Homo sapiens: one gene and its partners. The protein of the gene in region 2 interacts with the protein of the main gene of each other region in a biochemical or structural test. Each region holds a gene or a part of one and is shown on either strand. Other genes may lie near its edges.

Region 1 (7,702 bases), on a different chromosome or scaffold from region 2:
ACTGGGCCCAGACGTGGTGGCTCACACCTGTAATCCCAGCTTTTTGGGAGGCTGAGGCGGACGGATCACCTGAGGTCAGGAGTTTAAGACCAGCCTGGGTAACATGGTGACACCTCCATCTCTACTAAAAATACAAAAATTAGCCAGGTATGGTGGTGGACGCCTGTAATCCCAGCTACTCTGGAGGCTGAGGCAGGAGAATTGCTTGAACCCGGGAGGCGGAGGTTGCAGTGAGCCGAGATCGGGCCACTGCATTCCAGCCTGGGAGACAGAGCCAGACTCTGTCTCAAAAAATAAATAAATAAATAAACTGGGAGACCAGGAGGGCCTACCTCTGAAGGGGACTTGAGAAAGGTGAGAGGTGAGGGGGGTTGGTGCTCTGCGGGAAGAGCGCACCAGGCAGTGGAAACAGCCCCTGCCAAGGCCCTGAGGCCAGAGGTTCATTCCATGGGAGGCCAGTGAGGCTACAGGGCTGTGAGCAAGAAGAAAACTTACAGGAGCTGAGGTCAGGAGAGCCAGGTGCGGGGAGTGGAGGACAGATCCTGGAGGGCCGTTTTCAGGCCAGCCCTTGATGTTTAGTAAATCTATGAGTCCTTAGTCAAGACTGAGATTCCTGGGGCAGGTACTGAAATCTTTCTGGGTTTATCTGCAGCCATATCGTCATTATCTGGGAATTCCAGGGCTGTCCTTGGGATCCCAGCCCAGTGCTCCTGCGTGCCAAGTGATCTTGAAGGGTCTGAAATAGGGAGCAGGTAAAAAATGTCAGTTTGGGAACACAGTGGCTCACACTTGTAATCACAGCACTTTGGGAGGGCGAGGCAGAAGGGTCACTTGAGCCCAGGAGTTTCAGACCAGTCTGGGCAACACAGTAAGACCCCATCTCTATAAAAAATTTAAAAATTAGCTGGGTGTGGTGGTGCATGCCTGTAGTCCCAGCTACTTGGAAGGCTGAGGCAGGAGGATCGCTTGAGCCCAGGAATTTGAGGCTACAGCGAGGTATGATCCTGCCACTGCACTCCAGCCTGGGTGACAGAATGAGCCTCTAAAAAAAAGACAAAAGCCAGTTTGGAAAGGTGTTGTGAGAGCCACTATTCCTGAACCAATGCAGAGCAGCTGAAACCCAGGGTGGGCCCCTTGGGAGCTGGCAATTCACCCCACACCTATTCTAGCCTGATTTCATCTTCTTGTTGGCTTGCAGAGAAGGTAGCTAGGGGAACTTTGCCACACCCTTGGGTTTTTTGTTTTGTTTTGTTTTTTATTTATTTTTTTGAGACGGAGTCTCGCTCTGTCGCCCAAGCTAGAGTGCAATGGTACGATCTCGGCTCACTGCAACCTCCGCCTCCTGGGTTCAAGTGATTCTCCTGCCTCAGCCTCCCGAGTGGCTGGGATTACAGGTGCCCGCCATCGTGCCCAGCTAATTTTTTGTATTTTTAGTAGAAACGGGGTTTCACCGTGTTGGCCAGGCTGGTCTTGAACTCCTGACCTCAGGTGATCACCCGCCTTGGCCTCTGAAGTGCTGGGATTACAGGGGCGTGCCCGGCCCCACCGTTGGGTTTTAAAGTTAGGAGTTAAATCTGAGAGGAATCACTGTGAACCAAGTCGGAGAGAGAAGTCAGGCTGTGGGGCTGCTGGAACACGTAAGGTTTTGTTTTTCACTTTGGACCAGTCTCCCCTCCTCAGCTGGGTTTTGTGTCATGGTTTGCCTTCCCTTATAGCTTCACTGCAAAGCTCTTTGGAAGGGCCCACACACAGGTCTTCCAGGGATAGGAAGGACAAGGACTTGGGCCCACAACTCAGGCAGTGGACAACAGCATGTCCTTCCAATGGCAAGGCAGGGAGGCTCCCTAGCAGGCCTGGGGATGAGCCGGGCTCCTCAGCCTGGCTGGCCCAGGGAACTGAGCAGGATCTTAACTGGGGCAGGGGGTGGGGTGGGGGTGCTGGGGTGGGAGGTGTGGTTACAAGTCCTGAATGCAGAGGGGAGAACGTGAACGTGCTGCAGTCAGACCTGGCGATCTGGCTGGGTTAGGAAGGGGCAGGGGGTCTGTTCCAGCCAGGCCCAGTTTAAGGGAGAGGTTGATCTGTGCCCTTAGGCAAGCACTGGGAGGAGCCTGATTCCTTCTCTGAAAGAATACAGTGTAATCTGTTGTTGTTTGAGAGGATTAAATGAGATAACAAATAACCTCCTCTCCCAGGGCTGGTTGCCTTGAAAGTGCTGAAGAAGAGGAGGGCTTTGGGAAGCAGGGCCCAGGTTGGAAGGTTAGGGGTGGTAAGGACTGGAGGACACAGGGGCAGACTTCACCCCCTGCTCAATTGTGCCCAGGCCTCTCTGCCTGGGCTCATGTGAGGAAAGAAACAAAATGGGTGGCGGTGGGGTGGCGCTCAGGCCGGCTGAGAACTTGGGCCCAGAGTTACCGGATCTCCTAATGCCCCCAGAGAAACAGGGAATCTGGATCTGAAATATGAAATCTTCCAGTTTTAAAACTTTGGGGAGTGGCCAGGCATGGTGGCTCACGCCTATAATCCCAGCAGTTTGGGAGGCCGAGGCAGGCGGATCACTTGAGGTCAGGAGTTCCAGCCCAGCCTGGCCAACCCCGTCTCTACTAAAAATACTGTGTGGTCCTGGGCAAAAATTAGCCAGGTGTGGTGGTGCACATCTGTAATTCCAGCTATTCAGGAGGGAGGCTGAGGCTGGAGAATCACTTGAACCCAGGAGGCAGAGGTTGCAGTGAGCCGATATTGAGCCACTGCACTCCAGCCTGAGCCACACAGCGAGACTCTATCTCAAAACCAACAAAAACAAAAAGCAAAAAAAAAAAAAAAAACTTTGGGGATTAATTAACAAAACAACAACAGAAAGCACCGCGCAGGCCAAGTAAAGCCCACCACCTGGCTGGTGACCCCCTGCTCTGGCAAAGGTGTCACTGAAGGCAGGCCCTCCTGGGAGGAGGCTTCTCACTCTCCTGCTCTTGGAAATGGGCTCTAGATAGACCCAGTTTCCTGGTGATCGCTGGGAGAACAGAGCTGTCCTGTTGGGCTTTGTGGTCCTGGGCAAAGCCCTTCCCCTCTCTGGGCCAGTTTCCTGGCCGGCGAAAGGACTTAGTCTGTGGGGCTCCTGCCCGTTTGGACACGTGTGTGACTCAGTCCCTCAGCCTCGAGGAGGGAAGATACGGCTATTATAGAAGTGACTCCTCCCAGGAACTGTGCTTCCGGGATTGGACGCAGGGCCTCAGGCATTTTGCGTGTCCACAGTCACAACTGTGTGAATATAGGTGTGTCATAATTGGAAGCTTTGCATGGCTCAGTGTAAATATCATCACTTTAATGACTTTGTTCTGCAACCTTTCATCGCGGCTCTGCATGCCGGTAGAAGCTTTTATTAATTCTGTGACCTGGGGAGGACAGGGTCCTTCCTCCCATTTGCTGTTTAAGGAAACCCAAGCTCAGAGCTGGGAGGTGGCTTGGCTAAACGTGCACCACTCGGAGCCCAGACTCAAGTGTCGGTGCTTTGGTACTTGTGGCACCCCTCCTTCAACAGGGGAGAATGAGGTTGGGATCTGAGGGGTCCTCTCTGTGCCCATCACAGTTTGAGCTTCAGGGAAAAGAAGAAGAGGTCTTTGCCCTTCGTTTTTCCACGGGAGGAGAATGTATGAGCCCAGGCTACCTTTCTGGGCCTTGTGTCGACATCCCTAGCTGTCTCCTCAAATCTCTTGCCCTGAATCAACCTGGCCTGTGTTCTCTGCGGCACTCGGAACCTGGAGGCGGACTGAGCCTCCAGCAGTCTAACATCTTTTGCAGTGTCGTGAATAGCCGCCTGTTTTCGCAGGGGCCCAGTGCTCTGCCTGGAGAGGAGAGAGATCCTGGCAGGCGGGGAGAGGAGACTTTGGGTCTAGACCCTCCCCTCCCATCCCCTCACCTCCGCTTTTTGTGCGCCCTCCTCTTCCCTCTGTCCCCCCCGCACCCCGTCTTTTCCACCTGTGCCCTGGACTGCATTAGGGTGTCAGTATCTGTGTGCTCCCCCACCCCCACGCGTAAGCCCGCGCGCCTGCACTGAGGCTGGGGAACTGCGTCTCGCAGCTGCGGCCCCCAGCGCGGAGGGCGCGGGCCCTTTAAATCCTCCGGGGCGGCGGCGGCGGGCCGGGGATGACATCAGCGGGCGGGCCCGGGGCTCAATGGGAGCCGGCGGGCGCGCGCGGTGCGAGAGCGCGCGAGCCGGCGGCGGGGGCGGGCGGGCGGGCAGGAGGCCGGGAGGAGGGAGGCGGCGGCGGCGGCGGCGGCGGCGGCGAGAGCCCAGAGCCAGAGCCCGGCCGGGGCCGAGCGGAGCGCGGCGGCGGCGGCGGCGGCGGCGGCTGGGCCGGGAGAGGCTGGCGCGCCGGGCGGCTCCGCGAATCCTCCGGCATCCGCCCCGGCGGGCCGCCCCCGCCCGCGGCAGCCCCCCGAGCAGTGGCCCGGCATCGGCGCCTTCCCGGCGGGGTAAATATCGGGGGGCCGCGGGCCCGCGGAAGGGTGCAAACCTGGGGGGAATCGGGCTCCCTCAGCCTCTTTGTTTTTGCTGGAGAGGGAGGGAAGGGAGGGCAGACACACGCGCGTTCGCGCTGGGGTGTAGGGGGGGCAGCCCGGGCGCCGCCCGCTCGGCCCGGCGAGGACAAAGGCGCGGCTGGGGACGAGGAGGAGGGGGCCTGTTATTTTGCAGGCTCGCGGGGGAGGCCCCCCGGCCGGCCTGCCTCCGCTTCCCCCCGCTGGGCCCTCCGAGGCCCCGGCCGGCCAGGCGGCCACCCCGGCTGTGATTTGGGGACGCTGAGGGAGGGGGCTTGGGGTGCTGGGCGCCGGATACTGTTGATTCGGGCCCGCGTAGCGTTTCATCGGACAATCACCGGCGCCCCCTGCTCTCCCGGCCCCGGCGCCCGGACCTGGGGGTTCGCAAGGCTGCGCCCGCTCGTTGGATGACGGGCGTTTGGGGGTCCTAAGGTGAAGAGGTGTGTGGTCACCAGGCCACTGATTTGTTTTTCTTTGTGGAGAGAAAGAAAGGGGTGGGGGTTATTTGTCGGATCGGATTCTCCCATTTTTGTGTGAGAGATTGATGTCTTGCAAGTCTCTAAGGAACGCAAAACAGTGTCTGGGTGTCGTTAGAGGATTCCCAAGCTCTTGTTAATACCCTAACTCGAAGTGGGGTGAGCCCCCTCCCCAACTTTTCCCTTAGTTTTCTTGCATATTTTCTTCCTGGCATAGCCTCCTTCCTGGAGAAGGATTTGGAGAGAGGAGAAGGGGACACAAGTGTCTCAAGTTGCTTCCAAGCAATGCCTGTGTTTGGGTCTCCTTTGCCTTCGTTTCTATGATGTCCCTTCAATTTTTATTTTAATCGTCCGAGGGACAAGGGCCCCGGCTCAGGGGTAGGCGATGGTGTTCGGGGAGTAAGAAGCACTGCCCGTGTGCCATGCTGGTTGGTAGTTTGTCTAATTTTTTTAACCTGCTGAAACTCTTGAACCTTTATATCCACTTTTCCCCCCACTTTGTTTATCTCCCCCCCTCCCCCATGGGAGAAGCAGCAAAAGAACTGAAAAGCCTCTCCATTCCTGAATGAAGCTTTTCTGCTCTCCTCTGGGAGGCTTTTTGGGTATTGGTGCCGGGACAGTCTAGGCTCCCCCAGGGACCTTGGACCCCTGGGGTGTTGGGGAGCGACTGGGGGTCTGGGTGGCTGGCACATAGCAGTCAGGGGGTCCTGAAGGGCTTGCCCCTTCCCGCTCTCGTTCTCTGCAGACAGCCGGTGAGTGGGGAGAGACTGGGGGGTCATGTGCAGTATATTTATGTAAGACACCCAGACAGAGGGCACGGGTATTTATATAACCCGGCGTGGGTATTTATGTAATATAGGATGCGGGTATATTTATGTTCCTTTCCTAACCTGCGGGTTTCCTGGCTGCCATGTGTGGTCTCTGAATTGGTGTTGGCAGAAAGTGGACTGAGGTGTTGGGGGGGGGTTGCGTGCACACCCCCCCTTACCCCCCAACAGGGCTCACTGTGTGTGCCTGCTTTTCTTTCTTCCGTTGGAGTGTACACACTCGGGAAGCTGGACGTGTGTGTACGTGGGATGTGTGGCGTGTGGGTTTCCTGCAAACGTGGACTGTGTTCCCCTGGCAGCGTGGCACCTCAGCTGAGACAGGCCAAGCATATGGGCAGCGGCCCTTGATTGAGAGCCCAGAGTTTGGCCAGCTCTGGTGGAGGTCCCTGCCTCGTGGTTATTGGTGGAGGGCTGGTGAGCTCCTTGGGAGCCAGGTGCCGGGGTTCCCTGTCTCTCCTGGGATCTGCCCACTGTCCCTGGAATCCATCTCCCTCCCAGGCTGGCCTGGTTGTTGGGGGCAGCACTTGGCACGGGCAAGGGGCTGATCTTCTGTGCCAGCACAGCTGCTCTGCAGTCTTCCTGTTTTGCCCTGTTTGTGAGTGTGGGAGACCACCAGGTGGGACAGCCGGAGCCCTGTCCTCGGCGAGGCTGTACCATCTGCAGGGTGGTGTGGGACAGGTGGCATGGCCTCTGTGAGCCTGAGTACCCTGTCTGTGAAAGGAGTTCCCTCTTGCTAGTCCTTGATGCTGGTCCTCTTGTAAACACCCCTCCCCCTGTTTACTGCAGTCCCTGGTCCCTGTCCCCACGGCAGCACTGCCTCCAGGCCTTCAGTTTCCTCCTCTGCTGACCAGGAACAGGGTGTCCGGACTTTTGCCCCAGGCCAGAGCAGAGGGGTCCCTCCTCTGCCCCAGGCCAGAGCAGAGGGCTCCCCCCTGGCCCTGAGGAAGGAGAGAAGCTGCTCACATCAGAACTCCTCCTCCCACCCATCCGGGGCAGGCGGCTAAAACCCTGGCTCAGTCCCCTTTGTTGTTCTATGAGGGCCCTCTTAGGAGACCCTCCTAGTCTTAAAGGACGCCAGCTCCAAACAGTTTATCCAAGCGGCTATGGGCCTCCGTGTGAGGTCTTGGTGTCATGACGTAGAGATGGGGAGGTGGCTGGAAGGTGGATGGTCGAGGGCATTCTTTTCTGCCTTCCCCCCAGTAGGGGATGCGACTTTCTCCTGCAAGGCGTGCTGGGCACTGGCGAGGTCTGGCCTCTGGGCAGGGGCAGTACTTGGGAAGACCAGGCCAGGCTGTGGGAGCCTGGGGGGTAGGAGGTGTAAGAGGGCTGATGCCCGTTGTGATCCCTTGAGAAGCTTCTTTTGAGGGGCCCCTGAATGAGCATCCCCCAAAGACATGCTTGCTTGGCTGCTTCCTCTCTGGCCACACTGAAACCTGTCCTCAGCCTGCCTTAGCTGTTCCCCAGGTGTGTGGAGTGCAGGCTGTGGGCCACCTGACACCTGCAGAATGTGGTCTTCGAGAATGCAGGTTTTCGAGTTCCTGGTGGCTCTGCCTGGCCTTGGTGGACTGGACCCCTTTCCCGGCTCCCCACGTCGCTGACCCTCATGTTCCTGCTTCCTCTGCAGCAAGAGTGAGCCATGGAGCTACGTGTGGGGAACAAGTACCGCCTGGGACGGAAGATCGGGAGCGGGTCCTTCGGAGATATCTACCTGGGTAAGTGTTCCTAGCTCCAGCTGGAGCCCCTGGGGCCAGCCCATGGGACCAAGAGGAGGAAAGACCCCAGGATTTGGGGATCTGAAGTCAGAATGTGGCTCCAGGGGCATGATTTGCCCCAGGGCCATCCCAGATGGGGAAGGAAGCAGCAGGT
Region 2 (7,694 bases):
AATGTCTGTTCTTTTTTTGAAAATACTTAGTAGAAAGTAACCCAATGTTTTTGTTGCATTCGAGCTATCAAATCAAGGTAAGATAGACTCTGGCAAGGTAAGATAGACTCTGGAGTACCTAGATCATTCAACAAAAAGATAATAAATCTCAGTTTCTCACAACTAAGAGAGACTTTCAAGGTTAAAAGGGACCTTCAAGGTCATCTGCTTCATCTTAACAGAAGGTTTCACTGCCGCTAGACATCTTCAATCACTTCTTAAAGACTGACTCCGCTTGGATTTTCAAACCTCACTTAACATTTCTGTTTAGACTGTAGAAACCCCATTTATAAAGGGACACACTATTTATATATGCCTGTCAGCTACACCCTCCAGTAAATGAATCCATCTATTTTCTACAGCCCGTGCCCAAGTGTTACACATGCTGTTTAATTAGGATCCAAAAATGCAGGGATTTTTCAGATTATTCACTGTTTCCCTCATTATCTGAACTTCCCATTGCTTTCCTCCTTAAGTGCACAAGAGCTATGAATTAATTTTCTTTCTTGCTACCGTGAAGATTCTGGAGTTATCTTAAAACAATGAAGACAACAGAGAGAAACTCAAAACCTTTCTAATGTGGTTTTAGTTGCTGATCATGTAAAAATGGTAGCTAAGTTCAGAGATCAATGGCTCTTAACCATTTTTTTTTAAGATTAGAGACCCCTGTGAGAATCTGTTGAAAGTTCTAAGTCTCAAGAAATAAGAAAACAACATAGTATTTACTTCATGTGTACGTACACTTACAGGATAGTCATAAACCCTCCTGAAGACTAAGTGAAAATCACGTATATACCCTGTTATACCATCTCTTTTCTCATAATAAAACCAGTGTAAACATTTGACTAGTTATAGGCAAATACATTTAGGTTATGGGCATCGCATATGTATTTTAAGTAACTGCAAAATGTGAACAGTGTGATAGAAAAGTTGAAGATGCCAAATTCACTTCACCTTATTCTGAATTATTTCATACTTTAAAAATATTAAGTAGGCAGGTTGTAAATTTCAGAATCTCCATGAATATTATAAACCTATATGTTATTTACCCTTTCTTTTCATTTGTTATGTTTCCTTGGTCTTTCTAAAATGGTATAAATCCCCATTGAAAAGACCTTTTATTAGACTTACTCCTAATTACTTCATCCTCATTATCACATGCTGTTACAACTCAGTATCCCAAGAGTAATCATTTGATGAATGTGATACCATGTTTTCCTGAATATGGCTATAAAGAGATACGGAGTGTGGAAGCTGGTAGAAGTATGTCCACACCCAAGCAAATGTGGCCAAGACTGTGAACATCTCACCCAGTAACATCGCCTTTGTTATTGTGGCAGCGCGGGCGTTGGAAGAACTGGAGTCTTCATAACGCTAAGCATTGTTTTGGAAAGAATGAGATATGAAGGAGTTGTAGATATCTTCCAGACTGTCAAAATGTTAAGAACACAACGACCAGCTATGGTACAGACAGAGGTGAGAAAATCCATTGCATTTTTCGCATCTCAAGAGCCTACGTTTTGCTAGCCTGGACCTCCCGGACTCCATACTCTCTCAACACCAGACACAAAATACTGTGGGGAAAGCATCAAACTGTTTAATAATTTTGAACCTCATTTTCCCCCTTTTTAAATGGGATGAGATTATTAGTGTCTTAGTGTTGCTATAGAAATTATGTGAGATTATATGTTAGATTGAGCTATGTTAAATTTTACTACTGGACCATTTTTGACCAATAAAATGGCAATTTCATAAAATTCGTTATATTCATAGTCCTATAATATAAATATATAAATATATAGAAAGCATAATATTTAGTACATAATATAATCTCAGCCCATTTAACTTCTCCATTCTCCCTCTGTATGCCTACAGAGGTATCAGCTCTTCTATATTTCATGTCTTAACAATGGCCATTCAAAACATTTTGATTCTGGATAAGCCTAGAGATATTAATATTAGCCCCTCATTTCCTATTCCAATAATTAATATGGAAATTTGGATATTTCTCGTAATAATAAGAGTTTATGATATAGCCAGTCTGGTCTATTGAGCATTCATTTCTAAAGATAATATTACTGATAGAGTTTATGTTCTGCAAAAGGCCACCAAATTATACAACTTATATGTGTTCCTCAATTCATCATCCACAGTATCTTTCAGACGGATTTCAAAGTAGTGCAAGTGTTTGGCTTGCAATAGTCAAAACATTATGCCAGCTTGACAAACTTAATGGGTCTTAGGGGTTACAGAGGGAAATTGGACATTTAAAAAGCCTTAACACTCAGCCAAGCAACTTACTGTGACAAGATAGGAAAGTAAACACCATTTATTTTGCATTACCAACCATTTTTATTACAGAAAAATGCACATTTAAGCAAAATAGAAACTATCTGTCTACTTTCAGCCCGATTGGCCACTGAAAATAGGTTTCTTTTATGGGGAAAATCCTTTTCCTCATCCCTATAGAGAGCTGTAAATTGTGATTTTTCCATCTCTCCAACAATGCTTCAATTTATTCCAATATGATAGTGTTCTTCGTTGTCTGAAAAAGGCCATGCTTCATACTGCTTTTTTTTAGTGTGTGCCTCTCTAAAACAGACAACTAGCAATCACACAGAATTGGGCTGAATTTACAGGTATTTTTTGATGTGGGCAGCCAGTCCTGTGAAGCCATTTTCAGGGATGGAAAGCTTGGAAGTCCAGTGCCCTGTGTAAATGGATTTGTGTGCCTGGTGTGCCGCACCAGCTACCTTCTGGCTGTATATGAACATCATATGTAAGTGAGAGAGACAGCCAAAGGGTAGCTGAAATGACTGTGAGTGATTCTCACTGCAAGCTCTACTGTCCAAACATAATTTTTTAAAAATTCAAATTCTGTTGGCAGTAGTTCAGAAGATAAGTAAATTCAGATTTTTCTCAGGACAGTTTGTGTCTGTATCAGCCTCTCTTAAATATTTAAACTGAGAATTAGTTATCTTGAATAAGCAGATAATTGTAAAGGATGATTTTCATCATTATCTGCTTATAAGGCATGTAAGAAGTTTATGTGTTCAATTGGTGGTAATGGTTTGATACTACTTGGAAAACACTTGTCTGGGAAGGTAATGTTCACTCGACCTGCCACTGCTTGGAATTGGGAGATCGTTTTAGTCAAATTGATTGGCAAAGTTAATCAACACCCCATGTGGCTTTTTCTTTGTTCACTATAAACAATTGGTCATTGGATTAGACCAGTTGACGAAAGTAGTGATTTTGCCCCTATATAGATGTTATTTTGTTATGCAATATTGATTTTTATTTTTCTATTAAAATATGCTCATGGTCCCTTCTTTTGCTTCTCCCCATTCATTGTCTCCTGCAGGATCAATATCAGTTTTCCTATCGTGCCGCACTAGAGTACCTGGGCAGCTTTGACCACTATGCAACGTAGAAACCCCTGACCCATTCTGGATTTTTACTACAGGCCCTTCAATATCCATGGAGTCTCTTCTGAGCCATACAGGGCACTTGAGAAGTCCTTCTTAACTTCTAGCTAACAACTACTTAGTGGGACTATTACACACAAAACAAATTAAAAACAAATTATTCCAGGTGGACCAAGAATTCACAGTTTAATAATCTAACCTGAAAAATAATGAAGAGAATCCTGACTGATGAGGCATCTGAAGGATTTTATTTACAGATACCTCAAGGATTCAAAATCAAGGGAAGAAGAAATCACAGCAAAGAACCACCATCTTATTCAGGATTGCTTGAAAGGTGCAAGGAGAAATTGCCAGAATGCTGCAGTTCAGCACAAGATATGTGCTGGTGTGGCTTCTCACAATGAAACGGACTCTGCTTTGACATCGCCCCTTCCCACCATACTGCTCATAATAACATTTTAGGGGGAAAGGGGAGGGAATGTTTAAAAAGAAAGTCCTTGATTTAGTTTTTTAGTATTGTAAAGATACTGCTGACCTGTGCTTCATTTCTAACTGTGTAAACTTTTTTTTAACAAAATGTATCATTCGATAAAGTGAATTTTAAAAAAGTTACATAACTCTTCATTTTTTTATTTCCAAATCGTAGGTTTTTTTAAGCTGTAGAACTGTTATCTGTAATATCTTGCTGTAGAAATATCAAATCATTTGAAAATTTGCACATTTTTGTGCAAAACTCAATCTACAGTATCAGTCTCGTCAGATATATTAATTTTACACTTCAGTTTTGATTGGTGAGAAAGTACCCATTCTCTTCAAATAATCAAAGATAATTATTATTTTGTTTTGTTTTTGGAATCAACAGGGAGGCGCAAAGTATAAAGTTGCTGCTAACATATATACATATATATCCATATTTTATAAGGGTGTCTATGTATATATAGACAGTGTGTCCACACAAAAAATAGATACAGTTATCAGTCAGTCAGTTCTTCCATGATTTAGTTTTTTTAAACGTAGAAAAGCTATTGTAAACATCTCTTTCCATTTATTCTTAATTTTTTGACATATTGGTATTTCTTTAAAGGGAAATGAGGAATGCACATCAGTGATTGATTGTCAAACCTCACCCCCTGATTTCCTACCTAATCTACCCCCACCTAACCAATCAATCACATCCACAAATTGTTTTGTTTGTTTGTTAGTCAGGCTTCCAACAAAGTTCAATATTTCTAACACTCTAGTGCAATAAAAATTATTATTAAATAGCTAAGAGGTGTGCATGTGGGAAAGGTCAGTGCATATCCCTTTAGGAGGGGAGAATGTTGTAATATATCAGCTATCGAGTTGTTTAAAAAAAGTGTATTCAATCGTATATTGTCTATAGTATGTGCTATGAAATTTGCATTTATGATATGTAACAGGGGCAAAGCCAAATTCATGTTACTCTGTTCAGTCAGAAACATTTTGTGGCATACAGCATTCCTGGGAAGTGCTGTACTTTGTTTCGTTTTGGTTTTAGTTTTGCATTTAGAGTGCCTTATAATTGATGCCTATTTTAATAGCATTTCTTTTTAGCTTTTGGTTCGTATTTCCATTCACTGTTCGTATCTGTTACTTTCTATTAAAGCATTATCTGTTTACCACATGTACAAAAACTCTTTGAATAATATGCATTCCTAGTTTTCAGCCAAGTCGGGGATGTTAGTGATTGTACCAGCCCAAAGCACTTGGATAATCAGGGCCCTTCTTCCTTTTATAATCAATCATCAACATCAGAAAAAGCTACTTGTTTTATTTATATTCCCTTCCAAATCCGCTCTGGAACATGCAGTAACTGCACCAAACTTATTTTAGTAACAAATATCATTGGCAACTTTGGAATATATTTGATATTCCATTAGGATTTTTCTAAAAGGGGAAATAAACTATATATATATATGTATCTTACCCCCAATTCTTCCAACAGAATTTCTATAGGAAGCCATGGATGATGGCATAAGTTTGCCACATATTACATGATTTTAAATAATCCTCAAAATACCCAAGGAACTCTTAAAGAGTTTTGGTATGAGTATACTACTTTGGTTTAATTTTAGCTTCATGGATGTTCTGCATGGAAGGATTTTTGTTTTCCACATTTTCCCATTGCTAGCAGAGTGAAATCCAAGAGACCAAACATTTGCAAGCATTGTATTTGAGCACTTTTGTAAAAAACAAAGAAAAAGAAAAAAAAGAAAATATATATAATACTAAAAAAAAGTATCTAGAAGGCTACCTCAGAATGAGACTCTCTAACCTACATCAGAACCAGAGAAGAATGTGCACTATGTGGGTCTGTTATCATTATTTTCTTTTAGTTTGTATCTTTTTGGAGATTTATCCAAGTGCCAGATTACTCAGTGCTATAATTTTCTTTTAGTTAAACAAAGGGGGTCAGACAGACATTGCATCATCCAGACATGCCTTGTTGGACATGTAGAATCCGATGGAGCACTGCACACCAGAATGATTGGCCAATGAGCAGCTTCTCTCCCTGAAACAATAACTGCCCATTTGGCAAAGGGAAAGATGACAATAATCAGAAGAAGAAAATGAATGGGATGCATACCATAGACGAACGAGGCGGAGACTATTGCGGGAATCTTACTGTTCAGGAGCTGTTCCTAGAACTAACTCCCTTACTGTCATTGATGTGCATTCCACTCTGTGCTTTTCTGTACAACCATTCAAGTTTTAATTTCCCAGGTGAACCATCTTTATCTGCCATTACCACAAGCTTTCAAGTTTCCAGTTATTTTCATCATCATAACCAGTACGGTGCTATTATTTACCTATGTACGTGTAGTTATGTATAATTTTGTAATTAGTTACAATGGTAAAAAAAATCAAAATATATAAAAAGTGATTTGTACAGAACTTTATTTTAGCTCTTTTTTAAAAATGATTTGCATGGTTAGAAAACGGCGAGGACAGCCAGGGGAGGGAAGGGCCTCTAGGGAACTTTGCACTTTCTATACCTTTGTACTATGCACTGCCCTATTGATTCTACACCCAATAATGATATTACTTGAACCCATCTGTAAGAAACTGCTTCGGAAATTCATTTGTGTGTATGTAAATAACACAACATAGAAACAGGAAGGGAAAAAAGTCTGCAGTAATGCACGTATTTTTTTTCTTTCCTGTTTATTTTCGGTTTTGCTTTAAGTCCTTTTATTTTTAATTCCCTTTTTGTTTTTCTTTTTGGGTTTTGGTTCCTTTTGGGTTTATGGGTGCCCTGATACTCCAGCAGAGATCAGAAGGCTACAGATCCATTCTATCCATCCGTTATGTGGCTTTGCCATCCCAGCTTGGAGTGTCTTTACAAAGATAATAACAGTTGTGTTCTTTGCTCTCGTTTTGGATGCATAGACTGAAAAATTAAAACAAATAACTTGTAAAATGGCTTGTTAAAAAATACAATTACCTCTAATTAGTAGTACGCGTAAATGTTTTACAGAATGAAAGGCGTGCTTTTTATTTTCTTACTTCGTTACATTGGTGGCGAAAGAAGTCTGTATGAAAATCAGTTCTTTGCTGACACAAGTTCCATTTGTTACAAATGAATTCTAATAAAAATGTCAGTGTTATGCAGCCCTGGCCTTTGCTTTTGTCCATGCAAACACTTTGGTTTTGAACTGACTATTTGTTCTCTCTTCTCTTCTGGTTATCTAGTTAGTTCCTTGTACTAGTAAGAATTCTGTTTACCGAGAGACTACTGTTTACAAATATCTACCTTGAGGTAAGCACTTTTCACTGGTAAGCAAACAGAGACTCAGAGAAATAGTTTTTCCAAGTTCACAGAACAAAGAGGCATTGCTTTCATTCATATCAGAGATCACAGGCAATCTTTGATTCTGTGGAAGATTACTATATAGAAATTTAAGTGCACAACTGTATATATACATCTATATGTATGTATGTATTTTCATCTCGAAACAACTTTCATGCACATAAAAATAGCTCCATAGTGTTAATTTATTCATACCTTTGGGAACATGGCTAAGAAAATACTTGGTTTGCGTTATTTATTCAGTAATTCAATATGATCAAGTACCAATAATGGGTCAGAATTGTTCTAGGTATTGGAAATGCAGCTCTGAACAAATGAGATACTGCTGCTGTTTGCATACAGACTACAGTCTACTGAGAGAGGTTGGCACTGAAGTAATAGTAACATCACATGGG
Region 3 (7,694 bases), on a different chromosome or scaffold from region 2:
ATTTGGGGTATTAAGCAGAGCATGAAGAAGTGCCTACCTCTCAAAGTCTAAAGGCTGTTTTATCTGGAATGTGGAACCTATTTCCTGTTTGCCTTCATAGTCCAGACTTTTTTCAAAACCACAGTTCATAGAAACAAGTTTCCTTAGCAAGGAAATGCTCCCCTGGCTCTATTTCAAGGAATGCCTAGATAAAGCCCTTAAACTCTAAAATGCCTCTCTCTCCACCTTCCCAAAGAGCCTTGCCCACTAGAATAGCTTTTATTTAGCCTTGTTGTTTCTAAAAACACTTAGAGAATGTCCATCAATAGTGCATCACTTAGGTTTACCTAGTATCTATACAACTGGTACTTACAGACATTAAAAATAATCAGGCAATTTGCACAACAATGTAAATGTACTTAACACTACTGAACTGTATGCTCAAAAATAATTAAGATGGTAAACTTTATGTTATGTATATTTCACCAAAATTAAATGAAAATGAAATTTTAAAAGTCAGGTGTATCCTCATGTATTCAAATAGGAAAAATGCTGAAGATGTCAAGTGAAAAGAACAAATGACAAAGACTGTATCGTGAGAACTTACTTGCTTTTGTATGCACATGGCCACATGTGCATAGAAAACATTTTAGGGGAATGTAAATGGAATATTCTGTAATATTTGAATGATTTAATGGGGGCATAGATTATCTTACTAAACAGAAAGTAGATTAAAAAGAAGCTCAGGGAAGATTGTAAGAATGACAGAAAGTTGATAAAAAGTATTATCCCATATATGAGATAAGAATCATGGCTGCACTTTAAAAAGTCAAGCTCCATGAAGACCTTTTAGCAATTATTATAATTTACTTGCAGATGCAATGCTGCTCATGCTAAGAGGTGATCAATCAATCCTTTGTTAAAATAACTAGCTTCCTGAAGTTCTAGGGAAAATCCACAGTTGGGACTAAACCTAAGGAGGTGCAAATCTAAAGGAGTGTCAAAAACTCAATAATGGCAGCAACCCCATGTGAATCGACAGTTCCTCCTGGTTATTTGAAAACAGGGCAGTCAGCTTCACCTCACACCTCTCTCAATGAATCACTGGAGTTTCTGTCAGGAAGGGGACCTGGAACACAATTAACATGACTTTCACTCTCCTTGCAACTGGGTTTACTGATCCTCTCCTTCCACAAGAATGGTGGGCTGCAGGCGCACAAATGTAACCCCATACCTTGGGCACCAGGTATAGATTAATACACTAGGATTCTAGCTCCACTTTGGAATGAAAGGGACCATGGCTTATTATACTGAAAAAAAATCAAGAAGAACACACTTACATTATTTCAAATTCCATATGGCCCTGTATTATTGAAACTTTCAGTAATTGGCTTTAGGCAAAAATGATGAAGATGGAAAGAACAAAGGAATAAAAGGACATGGGAAAAATAACTAAGAAAAGAGATACATGGTGAGTCAGAGAGATGCTCTGTATCCATTGTGGGGAAAGGCAGACATGACTTCCCTGCAGGGATGCTGATAACTGAGTGAGAAGATGGCAGAGAGTAGACAACATGATAGGAAGGAGGTCTGAGACAGGAAATAAGGAAGGGGAGTCACTTGACCCTTTCCATATGGTCATCTTGCAATTCAATTCAACATTTATTGGGCATCAAGTGTAGGGCAAATTCAGTGCCATACCAAGAGATACATACATACACAATTTACATGTTGCCTTCAAGGAATTTTCAATTCTGGCTTTAGATAGAATCTTTAGGCTAAAAACTGTGAGAAGACTAATCAGGTCAGGAGAGGTGAGGTTGTACATTCCAAGAAGGCAAGCCATGGCCTTGCTTGAAATGCTATTTGCCATTTGGCTAGTGATACTGAAGCACATTACAAAAGTAAGCCCATCCTAAGCTCTTTCATATAAAGGATAGATTTTTAAAGATTCTGTATTCTGGAATGTGGAGATATTTGGGGGGAGAAGGAGGAGAAAGGGAAGGGAATACAATGATCAGGCATTACTGAGATCATTAGATTGGATAATCTAAATGGAAAATCTATGCTTCTCAGCCCCAGTGGGGCCACTGCTTCCCCAGACTTCTGGCTCAAGCACTGAACATTTTCTGAGAGGACAGCCTAAGACCTGGATCAACAGCTTTGAGGCTGAGGTCCAGGGCAGCCGGGGTAGTGTTTACTCTACATGCTGGGCAGCCCGTCTGAAAGCTGGGGATTACCTTTTCAGTTTTCTTACTTGCCACCAGTCAGGGAAGTCTTCCCTTGGAATATACTGCATGTTGAAGTTTGGCTGGGAGCCATAGATTTTCTTTGAGTTGCTGTCATATTGCGCTAGACTGGTACTTGAAGATGGTGGCTGGGAGCCATAGTTTTTCTTTGATTCGTTGTCATATTGGGCTAGAGTGGTACTTGAAGATGGTGCATCCATTTTGAGAACAGGAACTGCCCGAGGTATCTTCAGCTTTGGAGGGGAAGAAATTTTAATACATCACAGTGAGGCACAGATTCAGGTACCGGGAACTGACAATTAAGTATATCAGCTCTTGAAAGAGAGAGAAAGGAAGGAGAGAAGGGAGGGAGGAAGGGAGGGAGGAAGGGAGGAAGGAAAGAGGCAAGGAAAGAAGAAAGGTATGAGCAAGGATATGGAGCAACTGGAACTCATATTTTGCTGGTTGGAGTATGAAGTGGTACAACAACATTGGAAATTTGTTTGCAGAATCTAGTAAATCTGGATGTGCATCTGGTCATACCCTATGACTCATAAATTTTACGTATATATACACAACAGGGAAACCAAAAGACCTGTAAAAGAATGTTCATAGCAGAATTATTTTAATTAGATAAAAACTAGAAACTGCCTACATGCCCATCAAGAGGATAAAATAATAAACATGTTGTGGTTGTTGAAGGCTGAAAAATGGTCTCCCGAATATGTTCATGTCCTAATTCCCAGAACCTGTGAATACCTTACGTGGTAAAAGAGACTTTGCAGATTGTAATTAAGGATTTCGAGATGGGGCAACTATTCTGGATTTTGTGGGGGTGGGCCTGATGTAATCAAAATGGCCTTTATAAAAGGGAGATAAGGTGGTCAGAGATTAGAGAGCTGTGAGGATGGAAGCAGAGGTTAGAGAGTAGAGGTCCTGCAACCTTCTGGTTCTGCAGACAGGGGAAGGAGCCAGGAACCAATAAATGTAAGTACCCCTTAGGAACTGGAAAATGCAAGGAAACAGAATCTTCCCTAAAGCTTCCAGAGGAAACACAGCTGTGCAGACCCATTTTAGACATATGATCTTCCAAACTATAAGAGAATAAATGTATGTTGCTTTAAGCCACTAAATTTGTGTAGTAATTTGTTAGAACAGTAATAAGAAACCAAAACAGTTGTATATTCACACAACTGAATTCTATACAATGATGACGGTAAATATAATCACATACTAAAAAAATAAGCGAATCTCACAAATTGAAGAAAAGAAGACACACAATAAATGACTACACACTTTATAATTCCAGTCATATAAAAGTCAAAATCAGGCAAACAATCTATGATGTTATAAATCAGGTTAGCAACTACTTTTGGAGGGTAGTAGTGACTGAAAGGGAACATCAGGGTGTCCCTGGGGTTCTGTGATGTTGTGTTTCTTTATCTGAGGGTGGATTATACAGAATTGTTCAGTTTGTGAAAATTCATCAAGCTGAACACTTAGGATTTGTGTGCTTTTCTATGTTAATGTTATATTTCAGTTAAAAATTCACAATATGTGTGTGTGTGTCTGTGTGTGCGTGTGTGACAGAAAGAGATGCATTTAATATTTTTTTCATGCTATATTTTAGTTTTTCAGAAATTTCATTTACTTGGAGTTAAGGCTTTGACATTCTGGAAATTTTAATTATGCAGGACAGTGTTATTTATGAGCTGTGAAGTGGGTTATGTCCAAAGAAAAATGCACTAGGAAGTTCCTTAAATGGAAATCATTTAAGGAAATCTCTTTGAACAGAACAACTAGAGAGCTGATTTTTATTTCCTCCATTCAGAAAATAAGCCCTCTACTGAATACTCTGATAAAAAACAAAACAAAGAAAAACATACTTTACATGATACCCTCTGATCCCTGGTTCATTTGGGAAGCTTATAATCAAAACAGGCTTATGAACCCTTAGCCACTGATTTGCCTAGCTGATAATTTTCAATATATTGGCCAAAAAGTTCCCTGCTGGAGACTAGATGCAATGGTTTCTGGCTCTTAATTATCTTCTGCTCTTAGACTTGTCAAAACAAACTTTATTGGTAGTTCATCCTTTTTAAAGTGCAGAATTCAGTGACTTTTGTAAATTTATCAACTTGTATAACTATCACCACAGCCCAGTCTTCCCATCACTCCAATAAGATCCTTCATACCTATTTGCAGTCAATTCTCATCCCTACTCTGGTCCCAGGCAACCACTGATCACCCTTTGTTTCTATAGATTTGCCTAATCTGGGCGTTTCTCCTAGGTGTTTTAGAGGGCCATACTTTTCAAGCTTCAGGACTGAAACATATTTTCAAACCCAAACAGCAATGTTGCTAATAACAAAGTAAAACTCCTAACGATTATAATTGTTTCCTAGGGCTACCATGACAAATTGCTACAAGTTTGGTGGATTAGAACCACAAAAATTTATTGTTTCACAGTTCTAGAGGCTAGAAGTCAAAATCAACATTTCAGCATTGCCATACTTATTCTGAAGCCTCTAGGATAAAATCTTTCCTTGCCTCTTCCAGCTTCTGGTGGTTCCAAGTTGCTATGGTTTGGATATTCGACCCCTCCAAATTTTATGTTGATGTGTGATCTCCAGTGTTGGAGGTAGAGCTTAATGGGAGGTATTTGGGTCATAGGGGCGAATCCCTCATTAATGGCCTAGTGCCATTCTCATGGTAGTGAATGAGTTCTCACTCTATGATTTCCCATGAGAGCTGGTTGTTGAAAAGAGCCTGCTATCTCCCTTCCCTCTCTCTTGTTTCTTCTCTCTCACCATACAATTTCTGCACACACTAGCTCCCCTTCCCTTCTGCCATGAGTGGAAGCAGCCTAAGGCCCTCATCAGATGCCGATGCCAGTGCTATGCTACTTGTACAGCCTGCAGAACGGTGAGCTAAATAAACCTCTTTTCTTTATCAATTACCCAGCCTCAGGTATTCCTTAGTAGAGCACAAATGGACTAAGAAACAGGTGTTCCTTGGCCTGTGGTAACATAACTCCAATCTCTTCCTAGGTCTTCACATGGCCTTCTCCTCTGTGTATCTCTCTGTGTCCTCTCATCTTACTAGTCATTGGATTTATGGCCCACTCTCATCTTTCGTGTGATTTCATCTTGATCTTTAACTAATTACATCTGCAAAGATCCTAGTTCCAATAAGGTCACATTCTGAGGTTCTACATGGATATGAAATTTGGGGGACATTATTCAGTCTACTACAATAATGGATTATTTTTGTCTTTCATGTTGATTCATGAAAATTATGTGGCTTTTACTTAGAAAGAGAGAAGTGTGTGCGAATGTGTGTAGCTGAAAATAAGTACCCAAGACACCATAGATCCAATAGATGGGCGGAGATGTCCCCTTGCTTTCAGGTGAACTTCCAGAGAACCAATGGGAAGCCATTTTTTGTGTATCCTGGCATTTGAGGAGGCTCACACCTGCCTGGGAACCCTAAAAACAGAAGGCTGTGGCTATGAACCCAAGAGAGTAGAGCAAAAAGACAGCAGTAGCCTGTACTTCGAGAGAGAGCTACATACAGCTTAATTAACCAGAGCAATCAAGGTTTTGTTTGTTTTCTTATAGGCCAACTCCACTCTTGGGAAAAAGTTGGCTGACAGCCATCTTGAAAGATTGAGGGCTGAAAATCCAAGAACTGAGGATCAAGATCTCTCCCCTGTCATAAAACTACATATGGATCTGCCCTTCAGTAGGAAATTCCTAAAAGTCTCCCATGAGATAAAGAATCAGTGCTGGAAAACTCACTCCGATACCACCACCACCAAATCATGATAGAAACAGCTATGTGTGTCTTTTTTTAATTAGACCTCATCTTCCTTGGAACTAACTCTGAAAGGGCCATGAATCTCAGCCCCCCCAAAATCCCTCCCCAAAAGCATGCTGCCAGGTGATGCAGGCCCAAGCTAGGTGACAGATGTTTAACTTGGAATGATGTTTGCAGTCATGTGATAATAACATTGGATGGAACAATTCAGAGGCTGTTCTTATGATTACAAGTAATGGGGACATTTTTATCATTTGAGAATGACTGCAAAACTATGGAATTTGGCAAAGACTTTATTTGGAAGCAGGGAAGAAAGCCCACTGAATAGCTTTGAAGGGATAATGGAGGGAAAGAATTATGTTGTTTTCTGCTTTTGTCCTATAGAGTTTCATTTCAACACCAGGATACTTCCACAAAGCAGTCTTGGCCATGTTGATGGTAAGGAAAGAATGACAGCTAATAACAGCTGCCTGTTATGTGTGATGCCATCTTAAGGACATCTCCCGCATGCACCCATTTTTTCTTTTTTTTTTTTTGGTGACTATTTATGGGCTTACTGGCTAGGAAAAGACACAACAATGAAATGCAAAAATATGAGATATTACAATGGTTCTATATTTGAATCCGCTATTCAATACCACCCATAGCTATTATCTAGAGCTCATGGTTTTTCTCTCTTTGCTGAGAAGTCTAAATGAATTCCACATTTTCTAGTCTTGAATCTGGCAACTCTTGGTTTATTTAATATATCCTGACCATGAAAAACATTTTTAAAATGTTGACTTACCACTCTGTCTGGGAAGGTGGGAACTCTGTGTTTCTCTTCATTGACTGCAGTATGCAGATTAGCATCTGAACATTAAAACAAAGTAATATCAGAAGGAACTTTAAACAAAACAAAGAGAAACACTCAATGTTATGAATTAAAAGAATGAACCAGCTTGTGTGAGCAATACTCCAGATTAAGTGAATCCAGACACAACATCTGGAGTGATTCTGTAGCTTTCCTATATAAGGCCCAACTCCTATGTAGGCCATGTATCCTGGAAAGAGGATGGATCAAGGCATCTTGGACAAAAAGAAATAAAGACACCTAACTTTTTCTCTTTTAGTTGTTATGCCCATGGACTTCCCAGTAGCTCAGCAGAAGAAGCCAAGGGAATAAATTATACTTGGACAGATAGACAGTATTACAGCTGCTCAGGAGCTGCAACACCTCTACACTCTGTAGTTTTCCTCAGAGGCACAGCACCTGTGGCACCCAGAACACATGGTGAGTGTCATCCAGACAGAGCCTAGGAAGGCAATCCCAAGGCAGTGCTCTCTCTGGCCTTTTTCCTGCTCCTTCCAGAAAGTTAGGGCATTGTCAAAGCTGGAATCTGACCTGCTAGGTAATGATAATAGACCAAATAGACCATAGACAAAACCACTGGGGAAAATGATTAATACCATAAGGAGACATTACTCCTCAGTCCCTTACAGTGGAGCGAAGACCCATGTGCAACCAATCTGTATAGTTCATTAAATAACTATAATTCATGAGTATATAGAGCAATGTGATCTAGTTGAGATTAATAAATATTCACTGTATAGTCTAATTAAGATGGAAAACACAATGAATATTTATTAATTGATTTTTTGGGGGTAAAATGACCAGTATTAACATTA
Region 4 (7,694 bases), on a different chromosome or scaffold from region 2:
TCCTGCTCCTGCCTGTCACTGGGCCCCTGGGGCTGCCAGGTGGGGCTGTGCTTGCACCTCCCTCCCTTGGCCCTTGCACTCTCAGCTTTGCCCCCAGGAAAATGCTTTGAAATGCCCTTTAGGCGCCCCTTCCAATTCACCCCTGCGTGGCGCCCGACTGAGGCCTCCACCTCCAGTGACTGCACAGGCCGCCCCCCACCCCGGCCAGGCCCCGCAGCCCTTTCCTGTGCCCTTGCATCTGACCCCAGACTTTCTGCTATGGTGTCTGCTTTCCAGCCGCCTCCAGGCATGGGCTGGGACACTGCAGGGCCACATGGTCACCTGAGGGGGCCGTGGCCTGGACAGAGACCACCACTGGCAGCCAAGAGTGAACAGCCGAGGCAGAGGGGGCCCGGAGCTCTGAGGGCTGCGCTCTCTGCTGACCACTGGCTAGGCTGTCCGGAGGAAGCCGCCTCAGCTCTCTGAGCTTGAGTCTTGGGCCTCTGGGGGGGCCTGAATCTCAGCTCCCCACCTCCCTGCTGTGTGCATGCGGGTAGGCCTGTCAGAGCCGTTCTCTCATCTGTGAAGCAGAGGTGATGACAGCCCTCCCTCTAGCACAGATGGACAAATGAGACAAGATGTGTCCAGGGCCCGGGAACCAGCAGGACTGCAGGTGGAGGCCCATAGTTGGAGGCCCACAGATGGAGGCCATGGTGATTGCTATTGTCTGTCCCATGCATTCCCATTCTAGGATGTATACAGAAATGTCCTGTGGGCGGCTGGGCACAGTGGCTCACGCCTGTAATTCCAGCACTTTGGGAGGCCGAGGCGGGCAGATCACCTGAGATCAGAAGTTCAAGACCAGCGTGGCCAACATGGTGAAACCCTGTCTCTACTAAAAATACAAAATTAGCTGGGCGTGGTTGTGTGTGCCTGCAGTCCCAGCTACTCGGGAGGCTGAGGCAGGAGAATCGCTTGAACCCAGGATGCGGAGGTTGTGGTGAGCCAAGATTGCACCACTGCACTCCAGCCTGGGCAACAAGAGCGAAACTCTGTCTCAATAAATAAATTAAAAATGTCCTGTGGGCTTGGTCTGAATGAGCCTCAGCCTCTCTTTCCCTCCGCTGCGCTCCCCTGAAAACTCATCAAGTATAGGGTCACACACTAGATGCCTGCAGGGGCTGGGCAGGCCACACTGACAGGAAGGGGAGGCAGGCAGGGGCTGCAGGGGACCAGGAAGCCTGTCTAATGGGGGTGCCACAGCTTAGCACCCAGATCCAACTGTTTCCCAGTAGATACCAGAAATCTGGATTGTTGTGGGAAATCCTGAGTTTAAAATAGAGGGATTAGCCAGGCATAGTGGCTTGCTTGAGCCCAGGAGTTGGAAGTTGCAGCGAGCCATGATCGCACCACTGCACTCCAGCCTGAGCAAGAGTAAGACCCCGTCTCGTTAAAAAATAGAAGGAATCAGCCGGGCGCAGTGACTCACACCTGTAATCCCAGCACTTTGGGAGGTGGGCGAATCACTTGAGGTCAGGAGTTCGAGATCAGCCTGGCCAACATGGTGAAACCTTGTCTCTACTAAAAATACAATAAAAAATTTGCCAGGCGTGGTGGCGGGCATCTATAGTCCCAGCTACTCGGGAGGCTGAGGCAAGAGAATGGCTTGAACCTGGGAGGCAGAGGTTGCTGTGAGCCAAGATCACACCACTGCACCCCAGCCTGGGCAACAGAGCGAGGCTCTGTCTCAAAAAATAAACAAAACAAATAAAATACAATAAAATAAATAAAAGGAATCATCTTCTGCTGGGGTCAAACCCAGCCCTACCTCCTCCCACAGCCAAAACAGGGCCCATGAACTCCACGGGGACCCCTATCCCCACCCAGCCTCCACTCACCTGAGGGCTCCTTGAGGGGTCGGGCGAGGGTGAGGGAGCGGCCCAGGAACAGGTGCAGATCCAGCAGGTAGGGGATTTCATCAGGGGCCACCAAGGAGTAGGCTGTGCCACTTCGGCCAGCCCGAGCCACACGGCCTGCAGCAAGGAGACGTTCAAGCTTAATTAAGCAAAGAAGGACCCGGACCCAGCATGAGTTCCACAGGCCAGACCCTGAGCAGGTGAGCCTGGCCAAGCCTCGAACCTCACACGGCTGCTGTCCCCACCTACGCACAGGGAAGTTTAATCCCGGTCCCTAGGTTGATCTGTGAGAGTGTGCCCAAGCTGACACAGTGCTCTGGGAGACTAGCAAAAATACAGCAAGGCCCTGCTCATGAGCATGATCAAAACTCTTCAGTGTCCCCACTTTTGAGAATTCCCCGCAAAGATGTAAAGATTCACACACAAGGAGGTTTAGTGTGGCCCTGACTAGGACAGCCCCAAGTTGGAAACTAAAGTCTCAAGGGTAGAGGACTAGATAAGTGAATTAGCTGATGGCCACACAGTGGGAATTAAACAGCTCAGGAAAAGAGTGGGCAAACTGCAGCCTACAGGGCCAGGCTGGTGGCTCACGCCTGTAATCACAGCACTTTGAGGGGCTGAGGTGGGAGAATCACTTGAGGCCAGGAGTTCGAGAACAGCCTGGGCAAAATAGCAAGACCCCATGTCTACAAAAAACGAAAATTAGCCAGATGTGATGGTGTGTGCCTGTAGCCCTAAGTACTTGGGAGGCTGAGCTGGGAGGATTGCTTGAATCTGGGAGTTCAAGCTTACAGTGAGCTATGATCATGCCACAGCACTAGAGCCCAAGCAACAGAGTGAGATCCCGGCCCCCTGCTTGTCTGTGTAAATAAAGATTTATTGGAACACAGCCACACTCATTTGTTTATATATTATCTATATAAATGAATAGGCAGCAGTCACACGACAGCAGCAGAGATGAACAGTTATGACAGAGACAGTATGGTCCACAAAGCCTAACGTTTCATGTCTAGCCCCTTACAGAAAAGATGTGCCAACCCATCACAGAATGACATTTCATAGTAAACGAAAAACATTCGTGATGTATGGTGATGTAAAAAGAAAAAAACAAAAAGCCAGTTATAAAAAAGAACACCCAATATGATTGCAATTTTGCATGAAGTACCTAAATCACTACATAGCATTATATTTTGGTTTGTCTCTGTATCTTGGGAAAACAAGGTGTTATGACATTTGGAGATTTCATTTGAGGTTGTCTGACCGGCACTGTTGGTCTTGTGAGGCACAAGAAATTCCCTTTGGGGGCGTCCTGGGGACCTCCCTAGGGACATGCAGAACCAGCTCTCCACACAGCAACAGAAACTAGGGGACAGCAGACAGCAACAAGGGGGAAGTGCACCCACCACATGACACTTATGAATTAAAAGAAGGCAAAGAAAGTAGAATAACAGTTACCAGGGGCTGCGGGAGGGGAATAAGGAGATTTTGTCTGACGGATAGAGCTTCAATTTTGCAAGATGGAAAAGTTCTGGGGCCAAGCATGGTGGCTCACGCCTGTAATCACAGCACTTTGGGAGGCTGAGGCAGATGCATCACTTGAGGTTAGGAGTTCAAGACCACCTTGGCCAACATGGTGAAACCCCTGTCTCTACTAAAAACACAAAAAATTAGCTGGGCCTGGTGGCGAGCACCTGTAATCCCAGCTACTCGGGAGGCTGATGCAAGAGAATAGCTAGAACCTGGGAGGTGAAGGTTGCAGTGAGCCGAGATCACACCCCTGCACTCCAGCCTGGGGTACAAAGCAAGACTCTCAAAAAAAAAAAAAAAAGTTTTGGGGACAGATGGTGGTGACAGTTGCACAATGGGAACAGACTCAATGCCACTCCACTGCACACTGGGAAATGGCAAAATGCTGAATTGCATGCTATGTCTACTTTACCACAACTTAAAATAGAAACATCAGAAGAATGGACACACACCAAAATGACGGCCATGTCATCAGAGAGCAATGGGGGACAGTGATCTCTGAAATGAGACCACAGCTGTTCCGTGACTTACGAAGGGCTGCGTCTCAATAAACCCAATAGCCGTCAAAAACACACGCACGGCACCTAACCCACTAAACATCGCAGCTCAGCCAGCCTGCCTTGAGCATGCTCCAAATACTTCCATTAGCCTACCCTTGGGCAAAATCATCCCACACATAGCCGATTTTAAAATAAAGTGTTGAGTATCTCATGTAACTTATTGAATACTGTACTGAAAGAAAAAAATAGAACAGCTGTATGGGTGCTATTGTAAAGTCAAAAAAACCATAAGCTGAATAATTGGGTTGTTTTTTTTTTTTGGTTTTTTTGAGACAAGATCTTGCTCCGTCACCCAGGCTGGATCGCAGTGGCACGATCGCGAGTTTGAGACCAGCTTAAGCAATATAGCGAGGCTCTGTCTCTAAAACAAGGCCCACAGCCACCCCATGTGCAGTGTCAAGAGTTAAGCCTTGTACCCTCGGCTTCTGCCAGGATCCGGCACCCCTGCCTGCCCCAGGGCCAGCCACGGGCTGCTTACCCACGCGGTGCAGGAAGAGTTTGCCCTTGGCGGGGAAGCTGTAGTTGATGACATTGTCCAGCAGCGGGATGTCCAGGCCTCGGGCGGCCAGGTCAGTCACAATGAGAGTGGAGCACTTGCCAAGCGTGAATTTGGCGAGATTGATCTTGCGGGCTGTCGGGTCTAGGGCACTGTAGATGTGGGCGCAGCTCACCCGCTGGGTCGTCAGCAGCTGCTCAGAGCAAAGATGGTAGCAAAGTGAGAAGGAGACTTGGAGGAGAAAGGAAAGGAAGCCAGACCATGGCGGGGGACGGGCACTGAGGTGCAGAGACAAGACCACGGGTTCTGGAGTCTGGCACCCTTGGTCTGAATCCCAGCTTGCTGGGTGATGCCAGTTTGGGGAGGAATGGAGCTTACAACACCTCCCACCTCTCTGCAGGGTTGTCTGAGGATCAGAGATGATGTGTGCAGAGGGCCCTCTCAGGGAAGCTGCAAATGCCACCTCAGTGCACAAGCCTTATCCGGATTCTGCTACAAACAAGCTGTGTGACCTTGGGCAAGTTACCAAACTTTTCTATGCCTCATTTTCCTCATCTGTACGAATAACTGCCCCTTCTTTGTGCCTTATTATGAGGATCACATGAGTCAGTATATACAGTGCTGAGAACAGAGTCTCAACATGGAACACTCATGAGAGTGCTAGCTGTTCTTTACAGATTACTATTTAAACTGGGCATGGTGGCTCACGCCTGTAATCCAGCATTTCGGGAAACCAAGGCTGGAAAATCACTTGAGACCAGAAACTCGAGACTAGCCTGGGTAACACAGCAAGACACCATCTCTACAAAAAAAATTAAAATAAATAAAAAATGAGCTGGCATGGTCAGGCATGACTTGTGCCTACAGTCCCAGGTACTTCGGAGGCTGAGGTGGGTGGATCACTTGAGCCCAGGAGGCAGAGGTTGCAGTAAGCCATGATCATGCCATTGCACTCCAGCCTGGCCAAAGGAGCAAAACTCTCTCTAAAAAAACAACTGTTTAAAAATTACTATTTTGGTCTTATTCACTGGTGACCCCAGCAGCTGCACAGAGGGAGTGTTGTTAACTGTGTGTGGAGTAAGTGAAACCCAGTGAACCATGTCCTCAGATAACAGACCCAGGTGTAGCTGACAGGGAGGCAGGCACCAACGGAAAGGGGCCCCACTGCCTTCTGGGGCACAGCGACTCCCCAGGCTTTGACCCAGGCGGGGGTCACACAGGCATAACACATATGAAAAAAATCTTTGAGCCACTCACACATGCTAACAGCGCTTCACACAGCTTGCTACATGCAGGTCATGCCTCAATCTTAAGAAGTCAAACAAACCACATACTAAAAATCTACAGGAAAATAACAGGATGGCAGGGACAGGCTTCAAAATAACCCGGATGTAAGGGGAACTAACGGATGAAGGTCAAGACCAGCTATCAGCTGGTAACAGTTGTACCTAGATAACGAGTACCCGGGGTTCATCATATTATTTTCTGATCTTAGAATTGGTTTGAAATTTTCTCACAATAAAAAGTTTAGGCCAGGCGCTGTGGCTTACACCTGTAATCCCAGCACTTTAGGAGGCTGAGACGGGCAGATCATTTGAGGTCAGGAGTTCAAGACCCACCTGGCCAACACGGCAAAACCCCGTCTCCATGAGAAATACAAAAATTAGACAGGCATGGTGGCGCCTGAAGTCTCAGCTACTCAGGAGGATGAGGCAGGAGAATCACTTGAACCTGGGAGGTGGAGGTTGCAGTGAGCTGAGATCGTGCCACTGCACTCCAGCCTGGGCGACAGAGTGAGATACCATTTCCAAAAAAAAAAAAAAAGAAATGTTTTCATAATCCCAGTACTATAATCCCAGTACTATGGGAGGCCAAGGTGGGAGGATCACCTGAGCCCAGGAGTTCAAGACCAGCTTGGGCAACCGAGTGAGAACCTGTCTTTACAAAATATAAAAATAAGTAACAAGTTAGTTGGGCATGGTGACATGCGCCAGAAGTCCCAAGTACTCGGGAGGCTGAGGCGGGAGAATTGTTTGAGCCTGGAAGGTCAAGGCTGCAGTGAGCCACGATTGTGCCACTGCACTCTAGCCTGGATGGCAGAGCGAGGCTCCGTCTCAAAAAAATAAAAAATAAAAATAAAAATGACCATCTTGAGCCCAGGCCCAGGCTCCTGGTCCGCTCTCGTGCTGCCCTCTAGTGACTGCACAGGGAACTGCAGCTCCAAACTCCAGCTGAAGGAGGTGCTCCTCCCACTCAGGACCCTGCTCACCTCAGTGAGGTACTCGGCGTGGTGCTTCGTGGCCACAAACACCACGGTCTGGTCCTGGGGCCGCACCACGTTGTGCAGCAGGTGGAGCAGCACGGCAGCCTTGGTGTCCTCCCGCACGAGGAAGAAGGAGGTCTGTGGGGAGAGGGCATCACGTGTTGGCTTACGGGGTCCTGGCCCAGGGCCTGCAGGGCCCACCTGGACACAACCTCCTGGGATGGGACAGGTGCAGCCTCACCTTCAGCTGCTCGTTGAGCTTGGTATCCACGTCAAGCCGGATGAGCACGGGCTCCGTGAGGCCTGCAGGAGACATGGGGGAAAGTGGGGGAGTCGCAGAGGGACTGGCCCCCAGGCCCCAGCCTGACCCCCAGCCCCCATCTCCACCCCCAGCTCACGCACCAGCCCGGGCAAATTCCACCAGCAGTTTGGGCAGCGTGGCGGAGAACAGCACCGTCTGGTGGCCCCCGGGGAGGCGGGCGATGATCTCCTGCAGCTGCTCTGCGAAACCCATTTCAAAAAGCCTGGAAGGGTAGAGGGCAGGACTGGGTCAGAGGGGGCCTTCACTCCCTGGAGTTCCAACCGCAGCCATCCTTGTCCCCACAACTTCTGCAGTGTCCCAGGGCTTGCCTCACTCTAACTCAGCCCACTCACACTTATCACGTGACTTCATCCTAAACAACAATAACCTTGAAATCTGGAATCTGTCTTGGTCATGTTCTTACAAACTCATGCTGAAATAAATGACAGCAGCCCAGGCTGGCTGCAGAGGCTCACACCTGTAATCCCAGCACTTTGAGAGGCCAAGGCAGGAGGAGTTCAAGAACACCCTAGGCGAGATCCCATCTCTACAAAAATAAAAAATTAGCTGGGGCCGGGCGCAGTGGCTCAGGCCTGTAATCCCAAGCACTTTGGGAGGCCAAGGCGGGCGGATCATGAGGTCAGGAGATCGA

What was found.
Region 1: the proteins of PTPRD (region 2) and CSNK1E form a complex in vitro, tested with the Homo sapiens proteins (one study listed by BioGRID and IntAct).
Region 3: the proteins of PTPRD (region 2) and BMX form a complex in vitro, tested with the Homo sapiens proteins (one study listed by BioGRID and IntAct).
Region 4: the proteins of PTPRD (region 2) and DDX54 form a complex in vitro, tested with the Homo sapiens proteins (one study listed by BioGRID and IntAct).

Annotation. Positions count from the first base shown.
Region 1 is NC_000022.11:38,313,928-38,321,629, reverse strand, and holds the start of CSNK1E (casein kinase I), read left to right. Parts: upstream 1-4,196; 5' UTR 4,197-4,470; intron 4,471-7,460; 5' UTR 7,461-7,472; coding exon 7,473-7,548; intron 7,549-7,702. Other genes in the region: TPTEP2-CSNK1E (casein kinase I), read left to right, coding at 7,473-7,548.
Region 2 is NC_000009.12:8,313,652-8,321,345, reverse strand, and holds the end of PTPRD (receptor-type tyrosine-protein phosphatase delta isoform 1 precursor), read left to right. Parts: intron 1-1,379; coding exon 1,380-1,515; intron 1,516-3,403; coding exon 3,404-3,472; 3' UTR 3,473-7,100; downstream 7,101-7,694.
Region 3 is NC_000023.11:15,517,113-15,524,806, reverse strand, and holds part of BMX (cytoplasmic tyrosine-protein kinase BMX), read right to left. Parts: intron 6,879-7,694; coding exon 6,814-6,878; intron 6,611-6,813; exon of another isoform or gene 5,880-6,610; coding exon of another isoform or gene 5,828-5,879; intron 2,462-5,827; coding exon 2,220-2,461; intron 1-2,219. UniProt on the Homo sapiens protein: Non-receptor tyrosine kinase that plays central but diverse modulatory roles in various signaling processes involved in the regulation of actin reorganization, cell migration, cell proliferation and survival, cell adhesion, and apoptosis.
Region 4 is NC_000012.12:113,167,893-113,175,586, forward strand, and holds part of DDX54 (ATP-dependent RNA helicase DDX54), read right to left. Parts: intron 7,266-7,694; coding exon 7,144-7,265; intron 7,045-7,143; coding exon 6,983-7,044; intron 6,880-6,982; coding exon 6,748-6,879; intron 4,672-6,747; coding exon 4,461-4,671; intron 2,013-4,460; coding exon 1,878-2,012; intron 1-1,877.